Linked DNA regions of Homo sapiens: regions 1 and 2 are each linked to region 3. The links come from fine-mapping of genetic effects on gene expression. A gene starts in region 3. Each other region holds a variant in brackets. All regions are shown on one strand. Distances are between the middles of the regions. Region 1 overlaps CPVL (carboxypeptidase vitellogenic like). Region 2 overlaps CPVL (carboxypeptidase vitellogenic like). Region 3 holds the start of CPVL (carboxypeptidase vitellogenic like).

Evidence for each region. PIP is the estimated chance that this variant, and not a neighbour inherited with it, causes the effect. A credible set is the group of variants that fine-mapping cannot tell apart.
Region 1: its variant is the best candidate, but not a certain one, in a credible set for the expression of CPVL in whole blood (TOPMed, PIP 0.88).
Region 2: its variant is the best candidate, but not a certain one, in a credible set for the expression of CPVL in monocytes (CEDAR, PIP 0.61).

What each region holds. Positions count from the first base shown.
Region 1 is chr7:28,993,573-28,996,385 of GRCh38, reverse strand. CPVL (carboxypeptidase vitellogenic like) reads left to right here. Exons shown (of 13, transcript NM_031311.5): 13 at 504-1,151. The coding sequence ends at 614. It overlaps CPVL-AS2 (CPVL antisense RNA 2), which reads right to left. Exons shown (of 5, transcript NR_038965.1): 2 at 135-221. Among named protein-coding and RNA genes, the nearest start is that of CPVL-AS2, 15 kb to the right of the region's middle. The variant G/A (reference allele first, on the strand shown) is at 1,162.
Region 2 is chr7:29,029,126-29,031,938 of GRCh38, reverse strand. It overlaps CPVL (carboxypeptidase vitellogenic like), which reads left to right. Exons shown (of 13, transcript NM_031311.5): 12 at 1,180-1,362. Among named protein-coding and RNA genes, the nearest start is that of CPVL-AS1, 50 kb to the left of the region's middle. The variant C/T (reference allele first, on the strand shown) is at 1,346.
Region 3 is chr7:29,145,183-29,147,833 of GRCh38, reverse strand. CPVL (carboxypeptidase vitellogenic like) reads left to right here and starts at 1,297. Exons shown (of 13, transcript NM_031311.5): 1 at 1,297-1,405. It also overlaps a transcript of CHN2 not described here.

The sequences.
Region 1 (2,813 bases), 150 kb after region 3:
ACCAAAATTTCCCCTTCATTACTGATAAAGGCTAAAATGGAAGGTATGGCTCAGTGTGAGGGACAATTGGGCTGGCTAACTGAAGGGTGGAATTAAGTAGACAATCCACCCCATTGCAGGCAGACCTCACATACCCCAGAAGTAGTGGGCTGGAGGTGGGCCTCACCAGGTAACACTTGCAGTGCAGCACTCTCAACTGCGGGGAGCAGGCAGATCACTCTCTAGAGGAAAAAGACAAGGAATAATTTTCAATTTTTACACTCATGAGAAAAGAATACAACTTTGCGTAAAATTAACTAAGCTTTAAAACTTTTCTACCTTAACATGCCTGTTACAAAAGCCATCAACAGCCAGATAGGCAGCTTGTCCAAAGGCATGCATTGGGAGAATATGTTCTGTATTTCATGTGAGTTTTAAATAGAGTTTAATCTGAATGAAAACTTTCCATGTATTTAGAATATCCATTTCTCTAAATTTCCGTTCTTTTACTTTTTCTTTTTAAGGTAATTATTCGAGGTGGAGGACATATTTTACCCTATGACCAGCCTCTGAGAGCTTTTGACATGATTAATCGATTCATTTATGGAAAAGGATGGGATCCTTATGTTGGATAAACTACCTTCCCAAAAGAGAACATCAGAGGTTTTCATTGCTGAAAAGAAAATCGTAAAAACAGAAAATGTCATAGGAATAAAAAAATTATCTTTTCATATCTGCAAGATTTTTTTCATCAATAAAAATTATCCTTGAAACAAGTGAGCTTTTGTTTTTGGGGGGAGATGTTTACTACAAAATTAACATGAGTACATGAGTAAGAATTACATTATTTAACTTAAAGGATGAAAGGTATGGATGATGTGACACTGAGACAAGATGTATAAATGAAATTTTAGGGTCTTGAATAGGAAGTTTTAATTTCTTCTAAGAGTAAGTGAAAAGTGCAGTTGTAACAAACAAAGCTGTAACATCTTTTTCTGCCAATAACAGAAGTTTGGCATGCCGTGAAGGTGTTTGGAAATATTATTGGATAAGAATAGCTCAATTATCCCAAATAAATGGATGAAGCTATAATAGTTTTGGGGAAAAGATTCTCAAATGTATAAAGTCTTAGAACAAAAGAATTCTTTGAAATAAAAATATTATATATAAAAGTAATGATGA[G/A]TCAATTCTTGATAAGCAGATGCTCTTATGCAGAGAACAAACTTAATCTTTGCCTTTTCATTTTCTTTTTCCTTCTTTGAGTTTGAGGTGTACACACTTCTGAAAGAGCCTGCAGGCTACATTAGTTATAAGAGCCATTTTAATTTGGGCTTCAAATTCTCTACTTCTTTTCCCCAAATAAAGAACAACCTAATTTTGTATCATTGTTAGAATATCAAAAAAAATTAAGATAAGCTGGCATCAATATATACATTTATAAATATACATTCATTAGCAGTTTTCTGACTAAAATGTCACATCCTGGCACATCTTTTCGATTTATGCATCATGTGCTCACATCTCTGAAATTCTACAAGACGTGTGGATTTTTCCACATCACTTCCTTCTCATATTACCCATCTATGAACTGGCTCACTGGAGAATTAAATTTAAAAAGTCAAAGCCTGTTCTTGCGGCAAATAGTTTATGGAGTTTATTCTTTTAATTTCTCATGTTGTGCCTGATTACGTTCAGGTTTGTGATCTTCCTTTTTAAATTGTTCATTGTACCCATGTCCTAGAAGTCATTAAATCAAATATTCTGATCAAAAGCAGATTTTAATTATTGCAGAGAATAAACTGGGACAGGGTAGGACGCAAGAAGTTTTTCATATAGCCCCATCTGCAAGTTAAATTAGCTGTATTTAGTCTCATAACTATGTACTGGAAAGGGCACTGACTGGCTGGGAGACCTGGGTTTAGTTTCATATGGATCACACATGCACTGGACGTTTTAGGAGAAGTCACTTCACCATACCAGCCTCCCAAAAACTCAAGGAAGGTAGCCAGAAGAGGAGACTTCTGAGGTTCTTTTGGGTTCACATGTCACTAGAGTAGTACCTATTTACAAGGGTACTATGAGATGATCCAGTTTATCCTCATTATTTCAAGAATTCCATGTTTGCAAATGGAGTCTACTTGCTAAAAAATGTATTTGTAACCCCAATATCAATACACTTGCTCTTTTGAGGTCATGTACAGAGTGGCAAAAAATTTCAGTTGCCCAACATATACATTCCCAGCTGGGGTCAAAGAAGGAGACGCTCTGCCTTCTTGTTTCAGCTTTCATACTGTAAAAAATCGTCTTTTTTTTTTTTTTTCTTATTAAGACGGAGTCTCGCTCTGTTGCCCAGGCTGGAGTGCAGTGGTGTGATCTCGGCTCACGGCAACCTCTGCTTCCCGGATTCAAGCAATTCTCTTGCCTCAGCCTCGCAAGTAGCTGGGATTACAGGTGCGCGCCACCAAGCCCAGCTAATTTTTATATTTTTGTAGAGATGGGGTTTTGCCATGTTGGTCAAGCTGGTCTTGAACTCCTGATCTCAGGTGATACTCCCACCTTGGCCTCCCAAAGTGCTGGGATTACAGGTGTGAACCACCACACCCAGCCCAATTGTCCTTTGCTAAGTCTGTTTAGTGCCACATTTTTTTCGCATTTTTGTGCTTTTTTTGTGGCTGATTTTGCTTTTTAAAATGGCCTCAAGCACGGTGCTGAAGTACTGACTAGTGTGCAAGAAGACTGTGAAGCGACTTACAGAGAAAATACAAGCAGGTATTTTGTTTTTTTCAGGCATGAGTTAAAGTGCTGTTGGCCCTGAGTTCCACGTTAATGAATCA
Region 2 (2,813 bases), 120 kb after region 3:
TTGTATTCCATATATGTGAATATGTACATTGATTTTTATAGTTATAGTTGTGATATACATTATACTTGACTTTCTGCTTTCATACTTAACATTATGTGATAAGTATTTCCCACATTGCATCATGGTTCAATGAAACATTTTAAATGGTCTTATAATATCCTATAGAATTCTTATACTGTTGTGCATTTACCTACTCAATTATAGGACTTCTGGATTGTGTTTGAGTTTTTCATTATAAGACTCAATGAATATATATAATTTTTTAAAATTTCTTTGGACCTGTTTTCCTAGAATATATTCTACAAGTTGAAATTACTGGGACAAGGAATTTCAACATTTTTAAGTTTGGGGGCAGAAAATTGGCTACTGATTTTCTGAAAAGAAGAGCCATTTTATACTGTCCCCATTAGTTCTACAACTTTATCAGAATTGGGAATTATCTGAATTATTTTTTCAAGCAAATTGAAAATTGCTTTAGGATTAATGAAAAGAGTTACCTCAGTGTTGTTTTTCCTATGATAAACATCAGTTTGACACATACAAAAAATTGTATTCTAGGAAGAAAGAACATTCCTCACTGTTGACAAGCAGCTATCATATTTTTAAAAAGGAAGTTTTGCAAGTGGCATGGCAGGCATAGTTGCTTCCAATAAGAAACAAATTTGAGGCACCTGAATCTCTCTGTCTGCTGCTGCAAAAAAATTATACTTGCTACTGAAATCAATGTAGGAGAGGAGAGCAATATGGATTAGCAATACCCAAGAGAAAGCTCAGCTTGCCAGCGACTGCACTGCCTGAAGTTGAAGTTAATGAAATGCAGGCTTCATGAAAATCCTAGGGGGTAGTATTCCTTAGTTCCACTAAAATGTAACCACAGTCTTCCTTCTTAACATAGCCATAAGTCCAAGTAAAACCTGTATATATGTATCACTGAGTAATACAACACAAATGTTTTTGCAACCAAGAGAGGCCTTTATGCAGATTACTATGAAGAATTCAGTGGTAGAGACAAGGCTTGAGTTTATTTCGGATTGTTATTCTTTATGGCTAACTAGAAGAAAATCTCAGAGAGATTCATGTCTCTTTTTCTCTCTCACTGGCTCACTATTTATACCTAGCTCGATTCATGAGCTTCACCTCCTGAATCTTGCATTTGCTGATGGCTTGATTTCATTTCAGGTTCTGATCTACAATGGCCAACTGGACATCATCGTGGCAGCTGCCCTGACAGAGCGCTCCTTGATGGGCATGGACTGGAAAGGATCCCAGGAATACAAGAAGGCAGAAAAAAAAGTTTGGAAGATCTTTAAATCTGACAGTGAAGTGGCTGGTTACATCCGGCAAG[C/T]GGGTGACTTCCATCAGGTAGGAAGATGCTTGGGAGCAGGCAGGTTGTGGGAATGGGAGAGCGGGATTGAAAATAAAGCCTGAATAGCAATGAGACATGGCCGACCTTAAGCAAAGCCATACAACAGCCAGTGTGTGTCTTCTGTGGCCCTACTTTCCACAGAGAAGAGTGGTCTGAGTTCAGACATACATAGGACTAAATATAAAACCAGACAAAAGTTTAGGCATTGTTCAAGAGGTAAGGAGACAATTCATTAAAAAGACAGTGCTCAGTCCAAAGAGGCAAATCATTAATGAGAGAATTGCAGTCTATTTGGGGAGAGAACTTGGCAAATTATAAAGGAAGTTTCAACACAATCTCCTCTGGCAAATGTATGATCACATTTTTATATTACATGTGGAGCCTCAGGACAAAATCTCTCTAGCTGACACCCTAGTGCAACTTCCACTGCGGGGTCAGATGTTACTCTCATCATCTTCCTTTCTTGCAATGTCCTCTTCAAGTGTTGGAATCATGGTTATACTGGCCTCATAAAATAAGTTGGGAAGTGTTTCCTCTTTCTGTTGTTGGAAACGGTATCTTTAAGTGTTAGGAGAATTCACTGGTGAAGCCATCTGGGCTTGGAGATTTGTTTGAGGGAAGGGTTTTGTTGTTGTTGTCGATATGTAAGTGTACATCTTTATAGAATACATGTAATATTTTGATACATGTATTTAATGTTAATGACCAAATCAGGGTATTTAGGATATCCATCACCTCAAACATGTATCATTTCATTATATTGGGAACATTTCAAATCTCTTCTAGCCATTTTGAAATATACAATATATCGTTCTTAACTATAGTCACCCTACTGTGCTATTGAACACTAGAATTTATTCCTTCTATCTAACTGTCTGCACCCCTTAACCAATCTCTCTTCGTCTTCCCACCCATCCCCACTTCCCAGCCTCTGGTAACTATCATTCTATTCTCTACCTCCATGAAATTAACTTTTTACGCTCCCACATGTGAGTGAGAACATACGATATTTGTCTTTCTTTGCCTGGCTTATTTCCTTTAACATAACGACCTCCAGTTCCATCCATGTCACTGCAAGTGATAGGATTTCATTCTTTTTTATGGCTTAGTAATATTCCATTGTGTGTATATGCCACATTTTTAAAATCCATTCATCTGTTGATGGACACTTAGGGTGATTCCATGTCATGGCTATTGTGAATAGTACTATGATAAACATGGCGTGCAGATATTCCTTTAATATACTGATTTCTTTTCCTTTAGAAAAATATCAAGTAGTGGAATTGCTGCAGCATATGGTAATTCTATTTGTAGTTTTTTTTAGAAACCTCCATATTGTTTTCTATAATGGCTGTACTAATTTACATTCCTACCAATAGTGTATGAGTTCATTTTCTCTGCATCCTCATCAGCATCTGTTATTTTTTGTCTTTTTGGTAATAGCCAT
Region 3 (2,651 bases):
AATCATTTGTTAACTTTGTTTATAACTTTTAAATATTTAGGTATCTGGCCTACAGATCTCTGTTTGTACTTTTGCCCTGGGTCCTGCATATATTAAAGGTGGGCTGATTTTGGCCTTAAAAGAATTATTTTCCCACAAACAGATTTTTCTCCTTAAAGAGCTAGGTGGGTAGGAAGTACTTCCATATGGAAGGTATGATAGCAAAGAATGACTGCAGTCACTGAGCACATACTTTGTGCTGGGTGATTTACACATAGTTTTTCAGTGAGTCCTCACAACAACCCAATAAAGTAGGTACTTAGGAGAAAACAGATATTCAGTGACATTAGTTTGTTCCAGCTCGTAAAACTAGTGCTTTAGTTAGCCTTAGTTGCATAACAAACTACGCGAAACTGAAAGTGGCTTAAAACAATTTTTCCCCCTGACTGTCGGGTTGGCTGGGCTGCTCTACTGCGGGTTTCCCTGGGCTCACTCCTGCAGCTAGCTGTGAGGAGATGGAGGTTGGCCCGGGACAGTGCAGAAGATTCCCCGTGGCCTCTCCCACCTGTCTGGCAGTTGACGCTGCTGTTGCTGATAATGATGACCCTCCTTTATTTTGTGTTATCTACTTGCCATTGCAACCTCCTTGCCTTTTTTAGTTCTTGCTCCCGTACTGTCTGGCTCGATGCCCAGCACCTGGTGGTGGCTAATAATATACACTCAGGTCACTTACAAGCAATGTGACCCTGGATGGGTTACTTAACCTCACTTAGTTTGTGTCCCCCAATTGCAAAATGGGTATAATGGTACAGAACACATCAGGTGGCTCTGAGACTCCAGCGCAGTGATTCAGGAGAGTGCTTGGCAGGACAGTGGCACTTGGTGCGAGCTTACTGCTAGTGCAGCTGGAATGTAGACCATCAGCGAACGTGTGTTGCCTTTTTAAACAGTGGGAATCAAACACCACTCGCTTTCCAAATGTAAATCCTGGGCTTGCAAGTAAGTCCTAGAGTGCAGAAATAATTTCAAAATACAGGGTTGAAATTTTAAGATAGCAGCTTTTAAAAACTGGGAGACAAAATCAAAATAAAACAAAGGGACAAACCAACCTGAATGGCACCCCGCCGATGCTCTTCATTAATTTTTAAGATTCCACCCTGGGGCTGCTTGCTTCTTCCAGCATGGGAAGCGCTGACTTGATGCGGCCAGGTTTCTGGGACCAGGAGGTTGGGACACGACGACGCACTTTTTGCCCTGTGGGTCTGGGTCATGTGAGCCTAGAGGAGCGCTTAAAGGCTCGAGTTCTGCAGGGTCCTCGTGACTGGGTGGGGCTGCCTCACTTCTGCCTGATTTGGGAAGCGCTGCAAGGACAACCGGCTGGGGTCCTTGCGCGCCGCGGCTCAGGGAGGAGCACCGACTGCGCCGCGTAAGTGCCGCCTGCCCTGCGTGGGTCGTGCCAGCTCAGCGGGACAGGTCCTCGCCTCGGTCCCTCGGACTTAGGGAGCGCGGGGCAGGTAGTCTCAAAAGCCCTCAGCACCAACAGGGGAGAAAGCACCGTAGAGTGAGACTGGAGTGGGGTGGTCGTGGCCGAGTCAAAGTTCAAATTGGAGCATTGGGGATGTACTGCGTGCGCCCAGCCGAGGGAATACTCTTGAAGTTTCCTGGCACAACTGTCGCACCCGGGGTTCTTCCAGGCTAGAAGCCGTCTCCTACTCCAGGAGCTCCTCCGGGGAAGTACGAAGCTGTGGGGTCCTCTGCCGCTCTTAGCGCGGGAGGGTGGCGGGTGCAGGACACTTTCCCTTACTCCCTCAACGCGTGTTTTGGGGATGTGTTGATTTCGTGGGTGCTCAGAAGCAAGAGAAGCGGAAAATACCTTCTATTTTGAACGTGCCCAAAGCAGGGAAACTTGGCTTCTGCCTAGGAACGCATAGGAAGACTTTTATTCTTGGAATGTAGGATTAGCAGAAACCAAGGGCACAGGAGACAGGTGGAAGCAGCTCCCTGTGAAGTGATACAGAAACAAAAGGACTTTGGAATATTTGTGGATTTAAATCCCAGTTCTGGCCTTGGCTAGTGAGTGACCTCGGGCAAATTATTTAAGCCTACTAAACCTCAGTCTTTCCATCTGAAAGATGGAGATAATAAGTTTTTCTTTTTAAAGAATTGTTTTATTGGAAATAGAAATAACATACAGAAAATGCCTCCCTAGCACGGGACTTGGCTTTTCAGCTAAGTGTAATTTTCCTTATCAGTTATGATTGATGATGAAGTCTATGGTGAAGACAGAACAAAATAATGTTTAAAACTCTGGCCATATAATGACTGTGGCTATGCATGACCCGTGTGCAGTCACCTCTGAGCCCCCCACCTTCACTGCAACCCCAGTGGGTCCCAAGCAAGGTGCTTGGGTTTTGGAGCTGGACAATTCTGTGCAATTCCTGGTTCCGGTATCCACTACTTGGATGACATCAGGGACGTAACTTATCTTCCACAGCCTCAGTTTTGGCATCAGTAAATGAAAAAGGAGCCCCTCAGTACTTGCCTTTCCCTTCCCCGGCTAAATGTACAACTCATTTTTTTTCCATTCTTTGCTTTGGGATGAGTAAGAACAAAGATGTAAGCAGAGTAAAAAGTCCATTGAGAATACATTTTATTAGCTTGGTAAATAACGT